Linked DNA regions of Homo sapiens. The protein of the gene in region 2 purifies or fractionates together with the protein of the main gene of each other region. This does not show direct contact. Each region holds a gene or a part of one and is shown on either strand. Other genes may lie near its edges.

What was found.
Region 1: the proteins of SEL1L3 (region 2) and MINDY1 purify together in Homo sapiens (affinity purification with mass spectrometry; 2 studies listed by BioGRID and IntAct, with this or other methods). This does not show direct contact.

What each region holds. Positions count from the first base shown.
Region 1 is NC_000001.11:150,995,095-151,006,492, forward strand, and holds the end of MINDY1 (ubiquitin carboxyl-terminal hydrolase MINDY-1), read right to left. Parts: 5' UTR 11,218-11,398; intron 11,212-11,217; exon of another isoform or gene 11,062-11,211; coding exon of another isoform or gene 11,007-11,061; intron 7,875-11,006; exon of another isoform or gene 7,613-7,874; coding exon of another isoform or gene 7,524-7,612; coding exon 7,071-7,523; intron 6,736-7,070; exon of another isoform or gene 6,689-6,735; coding exon 6,631-6,688; intron 6,221-6,630; coding exon 6,156-6,220; intron 5,522-6,155; coding exon 5,363-5,521; intron 4,874-5,362; coding exon of another isoform or gene 4,871-4,873; coding exon 4,768-4,870; intron 4,418-4,767; coding exon 4,275-4,417; intron 3,180-4,274; coding exon 2,988-3,179; intron 2,686-2,987; coding exon 2,530-2,685; intron 2,274-2,529; coding exon 2,193-2,273; 3' UTR 1,741-2,192; downstream 1-1,740. UniProt on the Homo sapiens protein: Hydrolase that can specifically remove 'Lys-48'-linked conjugated ubiquitin from proteins. Has exodeubiquitinase activity and has a preference for long polyubiquitin chains. May play a regulatory role at the level of protein turnover.
Region 2 is NC_000004.12:25,857,254-25,868,762, forward strand, and holds the start of SEL1L3 (protein sel-1 homolog 3), read right to left. Parts: upstream 5,736-11,509; 5' UTR 5,584-5,735; coding exon 5,422-5,583; intron 4,901-5,421; exon of another isoform or gene 3,874-4,900; intron 1-3,873.

The DNA.
Region 1 (11,398 bases), on a different chromosome or scaffold from region 2:
AAAGAAAACCCAGGAGTCTTTGGTTAATGTAGTGCAGGACTCTGAGCTCCCGGGAGGACCCTTCCCTCCCAGATGAACTGTGATGGACCAGCCCAAAGGAGGGGAGAGAGCACTTGGGCCATAGTGGTGGTGGATCTTTCTAACACTGAATTCCCTTGTCTGCAGGATGCAGTGAAAGGGGATTGCCAGTCAGCCCTCCTGGCCTTGTGCAGGGCTGAAGACATGTGAGACTTCCCTGCCCCACCCCACATGACATCCGAGGATCTGAGATTTCCGTGTTTGGCTGAACCTGGGAGACCAGCTGGGCCTCCAAGTAGGATAACCCCTCACTGAGCACCACATTCTCTAGCTTCTTGTTGAGGCTGGAACTGTTTCTTTAAAATCCCTTAATTTTCCCATCTCAAAATTATATCTGTACCTGGGTCATCCAGCTCCTTCTTGGGTGTGGGGAAATGAGTTTTCTTTGATAGTTTCTGCCTCACTCATCCCTCCTGTACCCTGGCCAGAACATCTCACTGATACTCGAATTCTTTTGGCAAACTTCGCTGTTGTTTGTGTTCCCTGATTGAAGGTTGGGTGGAGCAGGACATGGACCGGGAAGAGGCACTGGAGTTGGAAGTGCCTTTGATGTGCACTTGGCTATTCCGCAGGAATCCTGTTTTGCCTTAGTGCTACAGTAATCCACACCCAGGTCTCCCACTCCAGGTCTCCCCTCACCCTCATTCTCCAGGAAACTTCAGGCAAAATAATTGAGAAACAGGCATTAGAACAAGGTGAGAAATAGAGGGAGCAAAGGACCATCTGTATGAACTGGGAAGCAAGCGGAGGGCCAAGCTACCCTCCCCAGCATGGGAATTCTTGGGTTAGTGGAGAGCACAACCCTCAAATTCATGTGTCCAAGCAGAGATTTGGAAACCCACCTCCCAGGAGAGCACTATTTCCCATAGAAAACAAAAACAAAAACAGAAACAAAAACAAAAAGTCAGGCTTTGGTTCCCCCTGCAGGCTATATTAGAAATGACAGGTAGCTGGGCGCAGTGGCTCACGCCTGTAATTCCAGCACTTCGGGAGGCCAAGGCAGGCGGATTACTTGAGGTCAGGAATTCAAGACTAGCCTGACCAAAGTGGCGAAACCGTCTCTACTAAAAATACAAAAATTAGCTGGGCGCAGTGGCGCATGCCTGTAGTCCCAGCTACTCAGGAGGCTGAGGTAGGAGAATCGCTTGAATCCGGGAGGCGGAGGTTGCAGTGAGCTCAGATTGCACCACTGCACTCCAGCCTGGGCAATACAGCGAGGCTCCATCTCAAAAAAAAAAAAAAAAGAAAAAAAGAAATGACAGGTAACCACCTTCCTGCCTCTGACCCACCTCCCGCTTTTTGCATTCTTCAATTGGGTCAAATACTTAACCCTATTGCTTCAGGGTAAGGCAAACAACAGATCTCAGGAAAGAAGGTTTTTTTTTTTTTTAGACAGTTTTGCTCTTGTCGCCCAGGCTGGAGTGCAATGGTGCGATCTCGGCTCACTGCAACTTTCACCTCCCAGGTTCAAGTGATTCTCCTGCCTCAGCCTCCCGAGTAGCTGGGATTACAGGCGCCCACCATGACGCCCAGCTAATTTCTTGTATTTTTAGTAGAGACGGGGTTTCACCTTTTTGGGCAGGCTGGTCTCGAACTCCTAACCTCAGGTGATCCGCCCACCTTGGCCTCTCAAATTGTTGAGATTACAGGAGTGAGCCACCGTGCCCGGCCAGAAGTTTTATTTCCAAACCCCAGGAAGGCATTACAAATAAGAGATAGAAACCCAAATTAAGCTCTGAAACAACTGGAGACAGGCCTGCCTAGGTGATCAGGAGCATCCAGGCAGCAGGGATGGGAAGCAGAAGAGATGCATTCTGGATAGGGACCTCACCCCAGAGCCTCAGTCTGTACATACGTGTGACTATTCAGGGACCGGGAGTTGAGAACCAGAAACCCACCAATCCTAGTGTTGCCCTGGATGGGAGGCAGAGAAGGCAGCAGCACGTGAGGTCAAGGACATTACCAAGTCTGACCTTGGCATTTGTTGCCTGCTCTCATCCCCAACAGTCCATAAATAAGTTATCCAGCACATCTCAGGGGTGGAGGCGGGGGAGCAAGCCAACTAGCCATAGCCTCTGGAAGAAGGGGCAGGCCAGCCTGGCACTGGGGCAGAGCTACAGCAGAATGCAGTCTGACTCGTGCTTCGGCCTCTGCCGACGCTCCCCGGCTGGGCGTCCAGATGTGGCTCCTCTCCCCTGTATCGGATTTAACAATTGGTCACTGAACTTCCTTGGAAGAGCACAAGAAGAGATTCTAGAAGAAGGGGTGTCAGGATTGGGACAGAGAGTAGGGAGAGGAAGACAGGAAGGGGCTCCAGGGGAGAGGGACAGGCAGGGGAAGGACTCTGAGAGAAGAAACCTTGAAGAGACCAGTGCAGGAATAACAGGTGTTCTGGACCCGGCAAAGCATGAGGTGGAAACCGGGAGTGTGGGCGCCCAGGCAGCAGCCCACCTGCAGTGACAGGACCCGCGTCCGCATCCGCACTGGCTGCGCTGCCTGCTGCTGTTGATACTCCTCTTGCTGAAGCTGCTGGGCCAGCTCCAAGTCGGTAAGCCCCAGCGGGCCTCGTGGCTGTTGCTGCTGCAGGGACAGAGCAATCAGGTAGTCCTGGGGAGAACAAGAGTTGTGCAGTGGGCTGAGGCCCAGAGCCGTGGCTATTCAGGCAAGGTTTCCAAATCAGTTTTCCCACATCCCTCAAATTCTCTAGCTCTTTCTCCCCACAGAGCAGCACACACAGCCAAATGCATTATCTGTGGTGCCAGAGAATACACACCAAGTGAGGAGACGGTCTGAGGTAACCCAGAGAGAGAGGCATGGGTTCACATGGCCTCTAGCAGTTAAAATGTATGCAGTAAAAAGCTCTCTGAGGCACATGTGCTCTCTGCACTTTTCCTAAGTGCCCTACACACCTGGTCTACCTGCAGCTGCGTTTCTGGGGAGCCACTCCCACCTTCTGCTCCAGGCCCCTTGCCCAGGGAATGACTCAGGTGAAAGTCAGAGTCACAAAAGCAGCTGTCTCCATCCACATTGTGCAGGCTCTCCCATACGACTTGCTCCTCCTGTAGAAAGCCCTGGTCAGTGACCAGTAGGTATAAGTGACTCTACAAAGAAAAGAACAGAGCTCATTGGGGGGACAGTTGATACGGAGGCAGTTCACTGCCAGAAATCTCGGTATGAGCATGTGGACTTTTTTTTTCTTGGAGATGGAGTCTCGCTCTGTCATCCAGGCTGGAGTGCAGTGGCACAATCTCTGCTCACCGCAAGCTCTGCCTCCCAGGTTCACACCATTCTCCTGCCTCAGCCTCCCAAGTAGCTGGGACTACAGGCACCCGCCACCATGCCTGGCTAATGTTTGGTATTTTTTTAGTAGAGACGGGGTTTCACCGTGTTAGCCAGGATGGCCTCGATCTCCTGACCTCATGATCTGCCCGCCTCGGCCTCCCAAAGTGCTGGGATTACAGGCATGAGCCACCGCACCCGGACCCTGAGCATGCGGACCTTTTACAAATATGTGTGGCCTTGGGGGGAAGAAAGGGATGTCTGAGTGTATGTCCAGTTGGGTGTGAGCACGGTGGTCATTCTGGCTAAGCGTGGCATGGAGTCGTTGGGGCTGAGATGCCACATAAGACCCTGCTCCCCCCATTTCCCATTGTTCTCTGGGCTTGCCTGATGGCTCTTAGGATAAATCCTTTGAGAACCAGAGACCCCTCCCTCTGCTGCTCAAATCCTAGAGAGCTTTGGCAGTTTCTAACTTTTGAAGACCAGCATTGTTTAAAAATTCCACTGCCCCCTCCTAGGGGAGGATCATACTTTCCTGTCCCATCGACGGCAGGCTTATCCCTTATGGCTTGCTCTGGCCAGAAGATGTGAGCAGAAATGACATGTGTCATTTCCAAACAGAAGCTCTAAGCATGAGTGCACAGTGCCCCTCTCTCTCTCTGTTCCCACATATATTCCAGATAAAGGATCTTTTGTCAGCTGGGTCCCAGAGTGAAGATGGTGTGGGACAGAACCGTAGCCAGTCCACAGTGGACACGCACCAGGAGCGGGAAATGAACCTTTGTTGTGGTAAACCACAGGGATTTGAGGGGTCACTTGCTACCACGGCTTAATCTAGCTGATCCCAGCTGGACCCACGAGAAAAAGGCACCAGGAAATGACAGCACCGCAGCACGCCACCCCCAAACTCGCATTACCTTATGCTTAGTCATGGTGCTAAAGTGGTTGTTTCGGAAAAAGACGCTAAGTTCACCCTCCTTAGCAGCTGCTGTCAGCTCACACAGTCCGTGGTAGGTCAGCTGGGCCGCGGTGGTCTCCAGGAACTGCTCTGCAATCAGGCCTGCCAGAAAGGGACGAGTCGGGGGAAACTTGGCTTAAATTCAAGGTCCACAACAGGAAGGACCATCCAGAGAGCCCCTGTCAAAAGCCCCGGGGGGTCAGTCCCACCTTCTGACGTCCCTTTCTTGAAACCTGGCTGTATTCATTCACTTAACAAATACTTATAATAGAGCAGCTACCTTGTGCCAGGCACTGGGGATACCTCAATGAACTAAACAGAAATTCCCCAAGCTCCTTCTTGTGAAGCTTATATCTAGTGGGATGTGGTAGGAGATGACACCCAATAAAAAATAAGCCTAAGTAGCTGTCATTCCCTCCACATACTATCCATGAGAAGGGGAGGAATGTCACCTTCTGTCACGAGGTTGGTGTCACTGGAGTGTTTGCAGGTGATGATCCTCTCCACCAGCTGGTTGTAACTCAGTTTCCCAACTGCACGCACAGCCTCAGGACTCTGCTTGGGTAGTGGGATGTGGGATACCAAAAAAATTGGGATTTTTTTTTCTTTTTTAAGGAAGGAAATGAACAAAGCTCACAAGGACTACAACCCTGTGATGAATGGTTCCTAAACACTTTTTTTTTTTGGTCTCTCAAAAAAGAAAAAAATTTCAGGAACCATTCATCATAGGGTTGCTATGTTGCCCAGACTGGCCTCGAACTCCTCCCAAGTAGCTGGGAATACAGGCATGTGCCACCAAACCCATCTGCTTCCTGAATTTTTGATGTCTAAAGAACTGACCTATTTGCATGTAGTTTGCTTGTATTTGCATGTTACCCCCAAAATAGATTAAAATTCAAGGAATTCTGTACTGGGTCCAGTCTCTAAACACTATTTCCCTCCCAAGCCAATCTAACCCCTAACTCCCTAACCTCTACCCGACAAAAATTTGCCTCTCTCATGTCAGCTTGAGCTGGATAAGGTCCCAGTGGGCCCTCCCACCCTCACCTGTGGATCAACAAGCCAGCCATGGTACAGAGGTATGCCTAGCAGGTCAAAGACACTGCACTCGGGTGTATACTCAAAATCAGAGACGCCTGTGAATCGCACATTGACATCCAGACCTGTGGCCAGTTTAGGCAGCACTGTCATTGCATCATCCACATTCTGGGGGTAGAAAAAAAAATGATGGAGATTCTAGCCTTCTCTCCCACCACTCCACTCCCACCTGCAGAAATTAAAAATTAACCTTGCTGCTCTTCTTCCCTGATTCTCTTACAAGCCACTCCATTTCTCCCTTGCCTCAACCCTTCTCTATCTTATATAAATGAACATTGTTTTTCTTTGAGAGTCTAAGTCTAATTCTTTCATCCAGGCTGGAGTGCAGTGGTGTGATCCTAGCTCACTGCAGCCTCAAACTCTTGGTTTCAAGTGACCCTCCCACCTCAGCCTCCTGAGTAGCTGGGACTACAGGCACGCACCGCCATACCTGGCTAATTCTTGAAAAAAAAAATGGTTTTTTTTAGAGACAGGGGTATTATTATGTTGCCCAGGCTGGCCTCGAACTCCTGGCCTCAAGTGATCCTCCCGCTTTGGCATCTCAAAGTGCTGGGATTACAGGTGTGAGCACCCGGCCAATGAACATATTTTCTAGGACAAAGATAAACTCTCCTCTGACTCCTGCAGAATGAAATCATGGTTCAAGGAAACCTCTGAAGAAGCAACAAAAGCTTATCTTAGTATTACAAGATGTCCCCTTACAAACCTGCAAACCCCTATGCCTGCAGACCTTTTGCCTCACCTGCTGAAAATTAAGCTGAAGTCCCTCTGACTTCTCCTGGGGCTTGATGGACAGGAGGCAGTTTCCTACAAGACAGGGCCCCTTATCAGCTTACCCCACCAATCATCCCAAAAGCTAAGTTTCCTCTTCTCCTGGAGAATGCGGGTAATGTCACAGAACACAGATTTTCAGAGCTGGAAAATACTTAGAGTCTAATCCAGACTCTTCATTTCTCAGAGGAGGCGACAGCCTCATAAAGGTGAACGGCCCACCCAGGGTCAGATACAAAAGCTAAGGGCAGAATTGGTGTTACAACCCAGGACTCCCGACGCCTTTGCTTTTCATTCTCCAGCCTTGCAGAGAAGCCCCATAGACCCTTACCCTCCCTGCTGTATCAGAACCCCCAAATGGAGATCCCTGAATAGTCTGGATTTCTGGCTGAGTGGATAGCTCTGGAGCCCCTTGGGTAATTCCTCTTCAACGCCCAGTCACTCACCAAGATGGGCCATGAGCTCATCCGATGTGATCACTTCCTTCTGCGGGGGGAGCTTCACCTGGAGGCAGAAGGGGTGATCACGTGTGTGCTTTCCTCCAAAGAGCACTGAAGGAAGAACCCATGGAAAGGCAAGGGGGAGCTCCAGTAGTAGGGTGGGGTAGGAAAAAAGGCTTGCAACTGGCACAAGGGAATGAATGTGAAATCTTGCAAGGCATGTGCATTTGCTAGGGAGTAGGAGATACAGGGGTAGGACAGATCTTCCTCTTTTTTTTTTTTCTTTGTTTTTAGGAACATCTTATCTCATTTGCTCAAGCTGGAGAAATAGGGAGAACAATCTGAAAAGTTTTGACTAGTTTGAGGACATCAGGATGATCAAGGAAGTAAGTCAGGGAAGAGTACTCCCTGATATTTTTTGCACCCCTAACTGCATGTTCTCTTACCTTCCACTGAAGAAAGAGGATGTTCATGATGGCAAGGAGAGGGCAAGGGCCGTTAGTGCTCTGGGTGATGATGGGTGTCTGTTCTCCTTTCCAAGGGATCCACTTGACACAGTAGAAATCTGGCTCAGGCTGTCGGGTCCTGGGGGACTGAGGAAGCTCCTGGGGCATGGAGCATGCCCTTATTGTCTCTACTTCAGGCAGTGTCCCAAGGGTTGGCCCCGGTGGAGCTGAGCTAGCTTCAGGCAGAGGGGACTCAAGGTTGTCCCCACACTGGCTAGGCAGCAAAGCTTGGTCTGCTGGCTCCCGTTCTCTAGCCTCCCCATCAGCATCTCTTGCATCTGTGTCCTGAGGGTGCTCATCTGGGCCTGCCAGAACCTCATGGTTTTCAGGGATGACTGCTTCTGCAGTCCCGGCCTTACCAGGGGCTGGATCCTCAGGCTGATGGTATTCCATGGTCAAAAGGGACTTGGCTGAGGGGCACTGAAGGTGTTTACTAACCTCAGGGACTTGCCTAAGCCAGGCTTGGGATGCAAAAGAGTGACCTGTCCAATAAGAAGGAAATCAGTGGGCTGGAAAGCAAACTAACCCAGAAAAGTCTTGGAAAAGGAATGTAGTGTAGAAGGCTGGCTAGTGTTTGTGCAGTAACTCCTGGCTATGGGCAGTATATGTGTAAACAGAAGGGCCCCGTGCTGAGCTCTTTCCACCTCTAACTTGCTGTGACCAGATGAGACCAAGAGGTCGTGGGGCTTCCAGACTTGGGAGGGAAGACTGGTGGGATTGAACACATGGGTGGAGTCAGCTTCCCTGAAACAGATCATGACAGGGAAGGGAGGAAAGACAGAGAGAAAGGGAGAGCACAAAGGAGAAAGAAGGATAAGAGGTGGAGAAAGAAATGTTAAATCTACGCTAATGGTTATTAATATGATGATCTTTAGCTTACTCTAATAGGCATCACATCAGTAACCCCCTCATAGCCATGACAGAGATAATTCCTCTGCCCTACCCCACACCCTGCCCCTTCACACAACATACTAAGAATACACAGTGCTTGTATGTTTAGGGATACCTTCTCTCTGCCTCACCCAAGGATAAAAAGATTAAGTCACATAGTACTTGGGGTGAAGAATGGAGGAGGCACAGAGAGTCAGTTTCATGCCCCTAAAGGTGAAATGCTGGTGAGGAAGGGGAAGTCTTCCACCTCAAAGGGCTCTACTGAACCTTACACAATCCCAAACCACAGTATAAAGGCCTTGGGAGGGGTTTCCTGTAAGCTGGGAGGGGAAATGTAGGTGGTGGGGGCTGGAATCAGAGACTGGTTTTGATAAATAACTTCAGATTAGGGGCACAAAAAGCACTCCCCACAAGTTCTTCCAGTAAGCTTCTCTTTAAAAAAAATTAATAAAGATATCAAATTTCTTTTAATTAAACTGAGACAGGGTCTTGCTTTGTTGCCTAGGCTGGTCTTAACTCCTGGGGGCCCAAGCAATCCGCCCTCCTCAGCCTGCCAAAGGACTGGGATTACAGGCATGAGCCACGGTGCCTGGACCCAGTAAGCATCTCTTGACAGCTAGCATTGAGACAGCAACTTTTCCTCAGTTCATTTTTTTTCCCCAGAAACTACCTAAACCCAGAGGTACTCTCTTGCCTGCTATTTCTATGAAATATGAAAATGCTGATTATTAATTTACATAACAATACTTCCTGTACATTCACCTACCTAAAGTTTTATGTCTATTCCCATCCAAGTGGTTTTATTTATTTATTTTTATTTTTTTGAGACAGAGTTTTGCTCTTGTTGCCTAGGTTGGAGTGCAATGGTGCGACCTCGGCTCACTGCAACCTCTGCCTCCTGGGTTCAAGTGATTCTCCTGCCTCAGCCTCCCGAGTAGCTGGGATTACAGGCATGCAACACCATGCCCAGCTAATTTTGTATTTTTTAGTAGAGATGGAGTTTCTCCATGTTGGTCAGGCTGGTCTTGAACTTCCGACCTCAGGTGATCCTCCCACCTTGGCCTCCCAAAGTGCTGGGATTACAGGCATGAGCCACCGTGCCCAGTCCTCTCCAGGTCATTTTAGATGTGAACACCGGACCTGTTTAACCTGTTCTCTATCAGCACTGGAGGCACATTGAGGCAAGCACAGATAGACATTTAACTAATACTGTGGGTATAAATAATAAAAAACCACAAATCCTGCCCTTTGGAAAACATCTCCCTTCAATCTCCTTGCTCCCCTCCCACTCTTTATCAGGGAGAGAAACAGGGAGAAATTAAACTAGTTAGGGGCCAGGCGCGGTGGCTCACGCCTGTAATCCCAGCACTTTGAGAGGCTGAGGCGGGCAGATTACTTGAGGTCAGGAGATCGAGACCATCCTGGCTAACATGGCAAAACGCTGTCTGTATTGAAAGTACAAAAATTAGCCAGGTGTGTTGGCACGTGCCTGTAGTCACAGCTGCTCGGGAGGCTGAGGTGGGAGAATTGCTTGAACCTGGGAGGCAGGGGGTTGCAGTGAGCTGAGATGGTGACACTGCACTACAGCCTGGGTGACAGAGCGAAACTCCATCTCAAAAATAAAATAAAATAAAATAAAATAAAATAAAATAAAATAAAATAAAATAAAATAAATTAAACTAGTTAGAAATCTTGTCTTTTCTCCACCCTCCTCCCAGCCTGAGACTGCTTCCTTCTTGTAAACCTACAGGAATTTGGGGCTAGGGGAAGGCCTGGGAGATGAGGTTGAGGAACATTAAAGTTACTGAAACAAAATAAGCCTAGTCACTCAAATTGATTATCCTCTTGATTCACATATGTTTATGCTAGCTGCATATCATTTACGTGTTGTTAATTTAGAATCAGAGTAGCAAAAATTGCCTGCAGGCCTTATGCTTTTTTTTCTCTCTCTTTCTCTCTCTCCTTTCCTTCTCCCCTTAAATGACACTTAGGGTGAACCTCAAAGCAGATGCCAGAGCCTGGAAAAGTGAAAAAGCTTGAAGAAAAGCAGGCCTTGGCCGGGCACAGTGCCTCACACCTGTATCCCAGCACTTTGAGAGGCCGAGGCGGGCGGATCACCTGAGGTCAGGAGCTCAAGATCGGCCTGGCTAACATGGCGAAACCCCATCTCTACTAAAAATACAAAAATTAGCCGGGCACGGTGGCGGGCACCTGTAATCCCAGCTACTCAGGAGGCTGAGGCAGGAGAATTGCTTGAACCCCGGAGGTGGAGGTTGCAGTAAGCCAAGATTGTGCCTCTGCACTCCAGCCTGGGTGACAAGAGTGAGACTCTTGCCTCCAAAAAAAAAAAGAAAAAAAGAAAAAAAAAAAAGAAAAGCAGGCCTTATTTTTTATATTTTCTCTCCAGTGCCAGAAATGATCAATGATGAAGTGGGGGTTGGGCAGCTAGCTGGCTGGAGAGGTGAGCCAAAGGAACCCAGGAGTGGACACCTGAGGGAGTGGGGTCTCAGAGGAACTGGGCAGAGCTAAATGGGCTAAGTCTTAAGAGGCAGGGGCAGGAAATGTAATGGAGGCTTTCTACTCTACAACGTCCAATCCTGCTGGGGAGGGCATGGAGTATTTCAGAGTAGGAAAGAATGAGGGAGAGGATAGTCAGATAAATCAAAGTTTCATTCTTTTCCTCCTCTTTCTTAGCTCGTCAAATCCTACACTTTCTCTCCAGCTGGAATTATGGTGGTGAGTGAGGGAGTTAAAATAATCCTGGCTCCTCCCTAATCAATGGCAGTAGAGAGCCGAAAGTTGGAAGAAGCACGTAAAACAGGTATGTAGCTTCAAGAAGACACTCCTTCTCTGTAGGAACAGTTCCCTTACTGTCTCACACCAATCTCCTTCTTAGTCTGACCTATGTCTTTGTGCAATCAATAGTTTAGATTTTCATCTCAGAATATGTCAACCATGGCCACAGTGCCCTGTATACTTGCTCACAAGGAGAGGGGGAAGGTTTCGTGCTTTCATTAAAAGGAGGAGGACCAAGCAGCATCCCCTTTACATGTCTCTCCTGACTTAGCTCCTCTAAGCAATCCAGACTTGCAGACCAAAGGTGGAAGGACAGCAGGTGTCAGCTCCCCAAAGCTGGAGAGGAAATAGAGAAGGGTGGGAGAAGAGGTGAAGAAGATGATTAAAATAAAGTTTTTACCTTAAAGAAGGGGGTGCTGTTCCAAGATTGAGAAGGAGGGTTCAGCCGTGGCAATGAGATGGGGGAGATAGGTGCAATGAAGGGGGCTGCCAGTGCCAGCTGCCTTCCAGCTGTCAACGCCTGAGCTTATACAGGTTTACACAGCTTTATAAGCGACGGTCCAGGCTGGGTTGTGGCCACT
Region 2 (11,509 bases):
GAAGAACTTCCCAGTTGAGTATTATTCCCTCCTAAACCTGAGAGCTGGCCAGAGCCACACCATCACAGTCATGATCAATATTCCTGGTTGTGTAAGATTCTCCCCCATACTATTTAATATGCTGTTTCTTCCCAACTTACATCACACAAAGCTACCTAAGCTTGGTTTGCTCTTATTTCATTGAGTACCTACTGTGTACTGAGCACTGGGATGGGTGTGTTAAACCTTTTTCTCTCTCTGACTTCTAACCTCCACCTCTCACATGGGACCTCATAGAACTTCTCACTTCTAACCCAATCCTCACAACAACCCACAGAGGGAGACAGCATCCCACTGTTACAGCTGAGGCAATGGAATGCCTTCAGAGAGGGTAAGTAACTTGCCCAAGGTCAACCAGCTACCAAAAAGCAGAACCAAAATTCAAATCCACATTGGCTGACTCCAAAGCCAGGGAAGGTGTGCCTCTTGTCTTCTAACAACACCCAAAGATGATGCCCTCAACTCACGTCCTTGCCTTTATACACCTGTCACCGCTTTCTGGCTACAGGGTTGGGGAATCTCATGACTTTCCTTATTCCCATCTTGAAAGGGTTGGGGCTAAAATGCCATTATGCCGGCATGCCTTGAGTTTGGAGGAGACAGATATTGCCTTAACCACAAACACACAAACACCAGACTCAGCCAGCTCCCCAGTATAACTAAGCCCTTCTCCAGGTAGAGACTGGAAACAAGGCCTGCCAAGGCAGAATCCCATCAGCCATTCCTCATGGGCCGAACACGCCTCCTGCCCCTCGGCTCCTTTCTCAGGGGAATGGCATGAGCCATTAAACAGGGTAACTGAATTCACTTTAGGCTATTTACGGTCTACTCCAGTCTATCCATGTTTCCAGCGAATTGCCTGGGTTATTCTCTCCTACCTGTCCTCTAGCTCTGACGCTTTTGCCAACAGGCAGCCAGAAGAAATAGAAGGCAAGAGGCCAACACCATGGCTTGGGAAATTTTAGGAGCTCCAGTCAGGATGAATATGGAAGCTATTGGTTGATGTGAGGTTTGGGGATGATCTCTATTTTCAAATATTCATAATACCTCTCCCTCAAGCTAGATAACTGCAGATCTCTTTACCTCGTTTTGATCTTCTCATGCTCTGCATTGCACACATAGTGAGGGGTTAATGAATACTCTTAGATGGATGACCGAGGGTGTGTGGCCACTTACAGGGAATCCTGTACAAGGCTCTGTCACAGCCGCTGTCTGCTAACTGTCCCACATGTATCTGTTCTGTTTTTTTGTTGTTGTTGTTTTGTTTTTGTTTTTTTTGATTTTTTTGTTTGTTTGTTTGTTTGTTTGTTTTGAGACAGAGTCTCACTCTGTCGCCAGGCTGGAGTGCAGCGGCGCGATCTCAGCTCACTGTAACCTCTCCCTCCTGGGTTCAAGCAATTCTCCTGTCTCAGCCTCCCAAGTAGCTGGGATTATAGGTGCACGCCACCACACCCAGCTAATTTTTGTATTATTAGTAGAGATGGGGTTTCACCATGTTGGCCAGGATGGTCTCGATCTCCTGACCTCGTGATCCGCCTGCTTCGGCCTCCCAAAGTGCTGTGATTACAGGCGTAAGACACCGCGCCCAGCCTCTGTGCTGTTAATGTCCTCTTACTTCTTTGTCCTCAGTCTGATTGTCTAACAAGTGCAGCTATCCACTCCGAACATTTCAACTGACAGCTGACATCAATACTGGCCATCCTGAGATTTATCTTTTCATATAAGAAAATATTATACTTTGGAGACCAGAGCTTAGAACGAACAAAATTGTTTTCTGGAAGTGCCATTATCACAGATAGAGAGCTGGGGCAGCCTCAGGCTGGTTCTAGCCAAGTTGGAAGAAGGTAAGAGTTAATGGTGTAAGAAAATAGCAAGAAGGCCCGTTGGGCAGGGAAAGTTCTGCGTGGGGCACAGTACTCAGCACCCGCGACCTCAGTGGAAGCAATTTCATTATCTTTTGCTTTCGAGGCCCTCTCCCTCTCTGAGGAGGCTCTCTGCATCTTGGCCTTTGGTGACCTCAGAATTTTCTGGCAGCCACTGGAACCAGGGATCATCTTTTCAGAAATCTGTTTGGCATCGTTCCGTGACTTATCTTTCAGCCCTCATCACAATTATTCATGCTTTGGCAGTATCCTAGCTACAGACACAGTACTCTTTTTGAGCTGATACTGAAGGTTACTCCGTCCCAGCCTATGGAGACGGAAGGCACCCACTCCTCAGGACCCTGACTCCAGGAAGCATGCTCCCTGTGAGGGCAGGTGCTTAAAGGCATCTATTCAGAAGCTGCTCTCAACCTCCAGCCCTTGTGAACAGGCAAATAGGTGAAGATAACACAAAACAGGAACTGGTCCCCAAATCATAGGCAATTTGGCTTTGGAATGCATTCCAAGGCACATTTGCTGTACACTTGTATGCACATTCATCCAAACTCAAATGCTAAACTCTACCAGCTGCCTCTGGACTACATAAAAACCCCAAACCTTTATCTCTTCATTAACGATGGCAAATATTTTCTGGCTTTACCTTTCTTCCCCACTTTAACATCCTGCTTCTATTCTGTGGCCTGCGCTTCCTGCTTTGTATATTTTAGATTACTTTAGACATGACCTCACATCCTGGCCAATTGCACAGTAGCTGCTAATTGCTAGAGCTCTGCTAATGGCCCGTACATCGATGAAGAATGAGTTACAAGCAGCAAAATCCAGAAGACAATAAGCTAGTGTGGTTTAGAGCTGGGGCTCTGGAGGGAGACAGATTTGGGTTTCAATCTCAGACTGTATGGCCTGGGGCAACTAACTTAACCTCTCTGAGTCTCTGTTATCTCATCTAAATGGAGATTATAGTAGCTCCTACCTCAGAGGGCTGTTGCTAAGATAAATACTGGATAATGCCTATAAACGATTTAGCACAATGTATAGCACAATGTAAGCTATCGTTATTACCATGTAGGCTTTCAAATTATGAAAGACCTTTCCTCCTCTAGAGTCTACATATTCCTGGGATCCTGCCCAGCTATTCTGCTCCATCTCTACCCTGCACCTGCCCAGCCCCATCCCCCTGACCAACCACTTCCTCCAGGTAGCATTCCTTGATTGAGCAAAATGCACACAATTATACATTTGCGTTTTCTCTCTATTGTTTTATGTTTTTCAAGTGTTTCATATGGATATTTACATTTTCCCCAATTCTCACACCAAGCTTCTCCAAGATCAAGAAGCCTTGCCTTCAGTAGTATCTTGGGTAGTGTAGACCCAAGAGCAACATCCCTAGTAAACGGCTAGATCTTCAGAACAAAATGTGGAGACTACCTTTTAAGTCGGCCTTTTGTGTCCTTTGCAAAATGGCTCTCTTGTTTATCAAAGTCTGTCTTGTACAGTAAGCGTATCAGAAGTCCATCTGAAGGAAGCATACAAAGGCAGGAAGCACTGACATTTCCCCCCACCATGAGGTCCCCAAATCCATTCCTTCCCCATCTGCCAAGACATTCATCCATGCTCTAGTTATTTTCCACATCACAGTATTTTCTAAAATTACTCTTTCCGGAGCCCTTCCTCACTCCTTCACTATCTCACTTGAGTCTATCCATGGCATCATTTTTCCCTCTGTTCTCTTAATCCCCCTTGGTGTACACAGAACTTTCACAGGAATACTTGCTCCATCATTATCTGTCTCTGTTTCCAGAGTCCACTTAGGCCCTTAGGCTTTGCTCTCCTGACTCTGACTTCCTGAACTGTCCAGAAGTAGTCCCCCTCCTTGCCAGGTCTTGAGATGTCCACGTGGAACTTTTCGGCCCGGCCCATTTGTATATGAATGTTTCACGCAACACTCTACTACATCACTTCTGCTTCTGTGGGTAGCCAGCAGGGCCCTGTGTACAGGGATCATCTGTTTAAACTGAAATCTTGTCATTTGTTATGGCAGTTTTATTTATGAGCCTGTGTGTTGTAACCTTGTGGCATAAATATTAAATAATAATATCTCTTGGGCAAAAAAATATCATTCATGTTAACTGACAACTTCTTATGAAAATATGAAGTAAGCCCAACCACACAATTTGATATTGGCTAATTCTGAAATATGAGTAAAAGCACGGATTGCTCAACAGGTAGATGCACAGGCAGAATTATAATTTGCATTTTTACACCTTCTTGCTTCAAGAAATGAAACATTCAAGAAGTAAAAAACGTTAAAAGAAACGGGCTGAGTGGCAAATTTCTTCAGAATCAAATTCTAATTTCTGCCAGTATCTCCTAAGCAGTTTTTAGCTTCCAAAAAGAAAGACTCCAAATAATGACAATGCCACATAAGTGAAATGAATTCTGGACAATGACACTGCTCTTTTTTTTTTTTTTTTTGGCATTCTGTGAATTTCCTATTACATCAGTTTCATGATTCAGCATTTTCCATTTCATTTATTTACAGTAATATATGGCGAGATAACCCAAGGTTTCTGCAGGATTGTGGAACATAAGTTACTCTGGGCAGGAAGGGTGTCGCCTTCTGTAAATTTACTATTGTTTAGGAGAACTCAAAACAGAAGCAAGCAAGCCCTCAAAGGAACTGAGAAAATTTCTCCCCACTTTGTTCTGAGGGGTCTCAGCTACTCTGGTATTTAAAATAAATGGGTTTTGAAAAATAGGTTACTGCCCTTTAGTTGATGACTAAAACAGAAGCCAAGAAGTGTGCAAATTGCAAACTGACATGCATGAGCCAAACATATTCTCTGAAATGACAATGTTCAAGACGCAGCTAAAGTCACCACTCTGGCGGTAAGCGTGTTACAGAGAACTAGATTTCTTTCCGGCATCCGCAACTTGGCTGGAGTGACCAAGGAGGAGTTGAAGAGCGCTGGAGATGCGAGGTGCGTTGGCAGAAAACTGTCCGGGCCGGGAGGACCCGGTGGAAACTAAAAGGAGGGTCGACGCGGGTGGCGGGCGCCGAGAGTAAGAGGCGAAGTTGGGCACGGGAAGGAAAGGAGCTGCGAGAAGATTGAGAGGGAAGCCCAGGAGGGGTGGGGGGTTGGGGGGTGCTGGAGACTGCGCGCGGCGGGGCGGGGAGCGAACTCCGGGCGGCGAGGCTCCCGGGTGGAGTCGAGGACAAGAAGGGGTCTCGAGGGTAACCCGACCCGGGTCTAGAGAGAGTCCAGGAGGGAAAGGAATGAGCACGAGCGAGAGAGCAGCTTGGCAAGTCCGGTCCAAGCGCCCCTCTCCACGCCCGGGGTACCTATCCCAGGTGCCGGGAACGCCCGGGGCGCAGCGACGAGGAAGAGAGAAAACTAGCAGCGGCGTCCCCGCCCCGCGTGGCGGGTGTCCCCGGCCGCCCCCACCCGCGTCCCCGGGGCCCCGCGCGGAGGGGAAGACCCGGGCAGGGTCCGGCGCTCACCAGGTAGCAGAGCAGGAGCAGCGCGCAGGCAGAGCGGCCGCCGAGGCCCTGGGGGACGCCGCCACTCGGGACCATGGCTGCGGCCCGGGGGCCGACCGCGAGCGGCGGGGGTTGCTGCTGCTGCTGCCGCGGCCACCCGAGCCCCGCGCCGCGCCGCTGCATGGCGAGGCCGCCCGGATCCGGGCCGGAACAGGTCACCTGGTGCAGGGACCGGCCCCCGCCCGAGGCGCCACCTTCCCGCCCGCCCCCGGCCGGGCCGGCCGCCGCGCGCGGGGCCACCTGCCGCCACCTCCGGACCCGCCGCCGCCGCCACTGCCGCTCCCGCCGTCGCCGCCCCCGCAGCCCCAGCCGAGCGCCGGCTCCTCCCCGCCTCCCCGTCCCCGTCCCCTCCCTCCCCTCTGCCTCCCTGCCCAGCCCTCCTCCCGGCCGCTCCCTCTGGCCCCCGGGCTTCCACCCCTCGGAGCAGCGGGCGCCCACGCAGGTGGGCACCGACCCGGGTCCCGCCCCTTGGCCGCCGCCACCCCCCGCCCGGGTCGCTGGGCCCCGGCGCACCCCCCTTTCCCTTTCTCTCTGCTCCTCCCCCGCCCCCCTTCCGCGCTCCTGCTCTCTGCGATCCCCCTCCTCTCCCTCCGGCTCCCTCTTCCTTCTCCCCTCGCGCTCCCAAACCCCCTCTCTTTTTCACTTTCTCCTTTTCCTCCCTTTCCTCTTTCTCCCTTCCCATCCTCTTCCTCGCTTCCGCATTCTTCCTCTCCCACCCACCCCTTTTGCGGGTCGCACAGACCAGTTCCCGCCCGTGCAATGGGTTTTTGTCTGGTTGCTTTTTTGGCCGGGGCGCCATTCCCGCAGGGCGCAGGGCGAGTGTGCCCCCTGGAGTTGTGCCGCGCAGCTGCCCGGCTCCCAGGCCTTCAGGATGGATTTTGACCCCTGCCAACCTCCACCTGTCCACCTGCGGGGTTGGGACTGCCTCCTTGCTGGCATGTTTGCAGCCGGGCTGCGCCCCACCCTGCCGGCTGGTTCGCGGCACGTTCTGGATGTTTCCCGAGGGTTTTGTGTGGTGCCGCCGCCACCGCCACCACTGCGCTCTTTGTTTTAATTGTCCAGAGTATTGGCACCCAGGACGGGTTTGTATTTGATTTGCATCCCTGTGCTCCGGCTTCCACTTTGGACTGAGAAAAAAATGAATTAATTAGGTCAATACAGTAATACTGGAGCCCCAAATGAAAGGGGTGAGGCCCTGGAAGTGCGCAAACAGCTTTTTAAAAAACCAGGACACATCCTCGGCCTTGGGGACGCAGGTTGAGACTGGCTGCTCTCCGACCCGGGTTCTGCGGCCTGGCGGGGAGGGGCCTCCGGCCGGCGGGACCACCAGCTCGCCGCCGGCCTTGGCTTTCAGGGAAGCGCTTGGCTGTGTCTAGCGGCTCCGACAACTATCTGGGCCCGCAGCTGCTGCTCTGAAACAGTTAATCCACCTTCCAAAGTTCGCAGAAGCTTCCCTTTAGCACTGGTAGATTTGTGCGGATTGGAACTAATAATAGCCTGGGAGCCTGAGAGGCCACAGCCCTTTCCCTGTGCCACGAGCATAGGTCAAGTCACAACAGACGTCGGGGAGAGGCTGGTGGTGAGACGGGGTGCCCGGGATGGTTTGACGGGCGTGGACGCGCCCTCAGCTGCTTCAGTACAGGCCTGGCCACACCAGGCATGGTGGCTCCTCAGCTGTCGTCCACTTTTTTTTAGGTCACCTAAGAGCTGTGGCCTTGTGTGAGTTCCCTGGCCTTATTCCACCGGTTCTCAAACTTCAGAATTACCTGGAGGGATTGTTAAAACACAGATTCCTGGACTTCAGCCCTAGAATTTCTGACTCAGTTGGTCCTGGGAGGGACTTGAGAATGTACCTTTCTAACAAGCTCCTGGGTGATGTTAACGCGCTGGTTCAAACAGCCCTCCTCCATTTCCAGAACTATTGGCTTTTAGGGAACTGGGCTCCTGCTCCTCCCAGCCAGCTGCCACCACATTAAAGCATTTTGGGGGTTTTGACAGATGCTCCCACTATCTCTGTTCCACTTCTGCAGAAACAAAGCACTTAACATTCTTCTGTGTGACGTGGAAAACATTTATTCTATCGAGTGTCCAAGGGAACAAAAGATTTGGTGGCTTTGTCCCAGATCCTGTCTATATCTTTTCCATCAGGTCAAAATACAGACTATGCTTTTAATGTATATGGAAGGAAAATTGTCGGCCAGTTCAGGGGGAAGGGGCTTCAACAGGCATTGCAGCATTTCTAGGGTTGCCACCTGTCTTCCTGGGCCACGCTCCGGAGTTTCTCTCCTCCCACATTGTACACAGATTCTGTTGGTCTTCGGGGAGCTAAATGGTTCCTCGGGGTTGTTTGTAATCAGGATTCATGGAATTGGGAGTTTTCAAGGCCTTGTGAGCTTTGAGGATTTGGGTTTACCTAAGTGTAGGTAAGCAGAGTGCCCCACTGGAGGCTGGACTGTTTCTAACTTGCCATATCCAACTGCTCACTTCTCCCCTACTCACTCATCTCCTATTGTGTTCCTACTGTGGACTGGGCACCACCTGAGGCCCCAGGATTCCAGAGGTAGGCAGGAAGGCTCTGTTTCTGCAAGGAGCACCAGGCATGCAGAAAACCGGCCAGAGTTTGGTCTTCTAAGAGGGATGTGTGAGTTGCTCTCTCATCCTGAGCTAGAGGTGGTGGGATTAACTGCTTCATCCTGTGTTGGAGAGGGGGAGAGAAAAAGTCAAGATTTCTTTTCACGGGGGAGTGGGACGTTTTGATCCAGAAGACAGAATCAGCTCTTACTTTTGCGTCTCTCCAGCAGTTTGTGTCAGTCATTGAAAGGGCGTGGTCTGATTTCAGAAGAAAGCCCTTTATTTAAAAAGAAATATATCTTCCCATTGTCCCATGGAAGGGCTTGAAATCTCACCATTACAATTCATCAGTTTAAATTAAGTTTTAATACTCCACTAAAAGTCGAAGGCCCCAGGGGGAGATTGGCCTCCCTTATTACTGCCTTGGTGTGAGTCAGTTTATCACATGCCCTTGGAAAGGGACCAATTCCACACCTCAACACGGGAAAGGACAAAGGCACAGAGTCCTGAGCTCATCATGGCCCGCCCCTAGGAGGAGACTTCAGAGGCCTGGAGGGAGGGGCTGGAGAAAGGACTGCATCTGCATGCCTAGGTGGCACATCATAGCATTCCAGGTGAGATGTTCTGAGACTCTGAAATTTTTTTTCTTTTTTTTTTCTTTTTGAGACGGAGTCTCACTGTGTTGCCCAGGCTGGAGTGCAGTGGCGTGATCTCAGCTTACTGCAACCTCCACCCCCTGGGTTTAAGCTATTCTCCTGCCTCAAGCCTCTAGAGTAGCTGGGATTACAGGCACCTGCCACCATGCCCAGCTAATTTTTGTATTTTTAGTAGAGATGGGGGTTTCACCATGTTGGCCAGGTTGGTCTTGAACTCCTGACCTCGTGATCCACCCACCTAGGCGTCCCAAAGTGCTGGGATTACAGGCGTGAGCCACCATGCCTGGCCCAAAATGGTTTAAGATCAGTCACGTCTCGGGGACCAATGCACTTGGTCAACTATTACTTTACCAAGCAAAAATAGTTTTTATAAACCAACTGCATATACTATCTTCTGTCAGTATCATTTCATTAAAAAGACAAGGCCTTTTGCCATCAAAAAATTAGGAAGGGCCTAACATCCTAAGAAAAGACTGGTTTGGGTGCCATGGCTCATACTTGTAATCTCAGCACTTTGGGAGGCCAACACGGGTGGATCACTTGAGCCCAGAAGTTTGTGACCAGCTGGGCAACATGGTGAAACCCTGTCTCTACTAAAAATACAAAAATTAGTCAGGTGTGGTGGTGTGTGCCTGCAGTCCCAGCTACTCAGGAAGCTGAGATGGGAGGATCGCTTGAGCTCAGGAGGTCAAGGCTGTACTGAGGTCTAATCACACCACTGCACTCCAGCCTGGGCGACAGAGTGAGACCTTGTCTTAAAAAAAAAAAAAACAAAAAACAAGCTGTTCTTTAATCTGAATATTTTATTTCCGTCTTGTCTTTATATGTTGCATTTTGCTGTGGATCAGTAAAAACTTACCTTTGGAGTGGCCCTGTCCATGTCGGCAGTTGGTAACCACATTTCTATATACTAAGGATGTCTGGGGCAAAGAGATCTGCCCCTGCGGAGACAAATGACCTCCAGATTACAGGAGGTGGGTAGGAAGGCATTCTGCAGGAGTAGAGAGTGTTCCTTCCATCCACTTACCCTCCCACATAAATCTTTGAGGCCGAGGCAAATGCTGCCAGTTTTAGGGAATCTTCCCTCATGGCCTCAGGTCGAAACGCAATGGGTCGGTTCTCTGTGCCCCCAGCAGGCATTGCCTGTAATCCTAAGTGGCCACTGGCTAACTCTGCCTTATATTGGGTATGTTAGTTGGCCTGTTCTCCTCCAGTAGACTATATGCCCCCCGAAAGCAGGGGTTATTTCTTAACCGTTTCTCTGTACCCCCATGCCTTGTACATAGAACATTTCTGACATATTCACTGAATAAAGTTGAATCCAACATCTTCCTTTTTCATTTTTTCCTCTCCATCTTTCTTCCTCCCTCCCTTCCTTCTTTTCTTTTTTTATTCATTGTTGTCTCCCCAGTCTCTTCCTGTTAGAACATGGTTATTTCCACACTCAGGTTTCTCTGTAATTCTGCAGTCTTCTCCTTTCTTCCCCCTCCCTCTTTCCTGTAATTTCAGTTATTCAGAATGAAGATGAATGAACCGTGACATTTGCCTTTTATATCAAAATAAAAGAGAAGAAAGCAGAAATAGAAGAGAGGAAAGCAAAAATAGAAGATTGCTGTCAGGCAACACACTCCCCATCCCAATAGGAAAACCATGGTCTTTCTTTCTGCCAAAGGTGACCTCTGGGATCTAGACAAATCCTGCATGCCATTGTTTTATGGGCAGTATTTCCATTTTTCTTGTGGCCCCCTAGCCATTACATTCCCTAAATCTATTTCCTGTCTCTGTTTCTCCTTGTTTCAAATCCTCCATGTTTAACAGTTACTTCTTGCTTCTTCCTTCCATAGAACATCCCATCAGATACCAGCCTCATCTCCTCATCCTCAGACCCCATCCTTTGAGCCTCAAATCCCTGACTCTGCAGACTCTTTCCCTATGGGCCACAGAGCCCTTGCCTTGGGAAGTTGTGGTAAAGGAGGAAAAGGAAGCATCTGTGTAAACTGAAAGCTTTTCCGTGTATTTTTATGGGATGCTGAAGGTCTTGGAATCACTCGGTTTGTAGCCCAGGCATGCTCCAAAATGAGCTCTATTTCTGGGCCTGTCAGATGAAATGCTGTTGCTCCTGGTTATTTTTGGCTCTTTGCCCTTCTGAATAGGTGCATATTCAGCTCAATTCTTTCCCCCACCCTGAGCTGGGGGAAAAAGCGGGCAGCTTCCCTTAGCCAAGCCCTCCCCTGTGTCAGGAGCGCTTTCCCCCTTAAGCAGCAGCTACTGACATAAGCTCTCTGGACAGCGCACGACTTATTTGTGCAGTGTCCAGGTGGGCAGCAGGGAAATCCATTCTCTGGCTCTCTTGGGCCATTGAGGGAAAGCTTTGTGAGCTGAACATTTCCAGGCAGGTGCAACCAGATGTCCAGGGCCTCCTTATTCATACCCAGGTCTGCATCCTGCCCCACCGCCATAGTTGCAGAAACTTCTGCCATCCTTGGGGGGTATCAGGATAAGAAGCAGGGATTTCAGGCTCAGCGACCACAGAAGTCCCTGTATACTGGGTGTTTGGGGAAGGAAAGTACACAGGATGCAGAAGATCAAGGGCATGTGTCCATAGATGTAAGGACATCTTGGGGTCCAGGTGCCGTGGCTCACGCCTGTAATCCCTGCATTTTGGGAGGCCGAGGCAGGTTGATCATGAGGTCAGGAGTTTGAGACCAGCCTGGCCAGCATGGTGAAACCCCGTATCTACTAAAAATACAAAAAAATTAGCTGGGAATGGTGGTGTGCACCTGTAGTCCCAGCCACTCCGGAGGCTGAGGCAGGAGCATTGC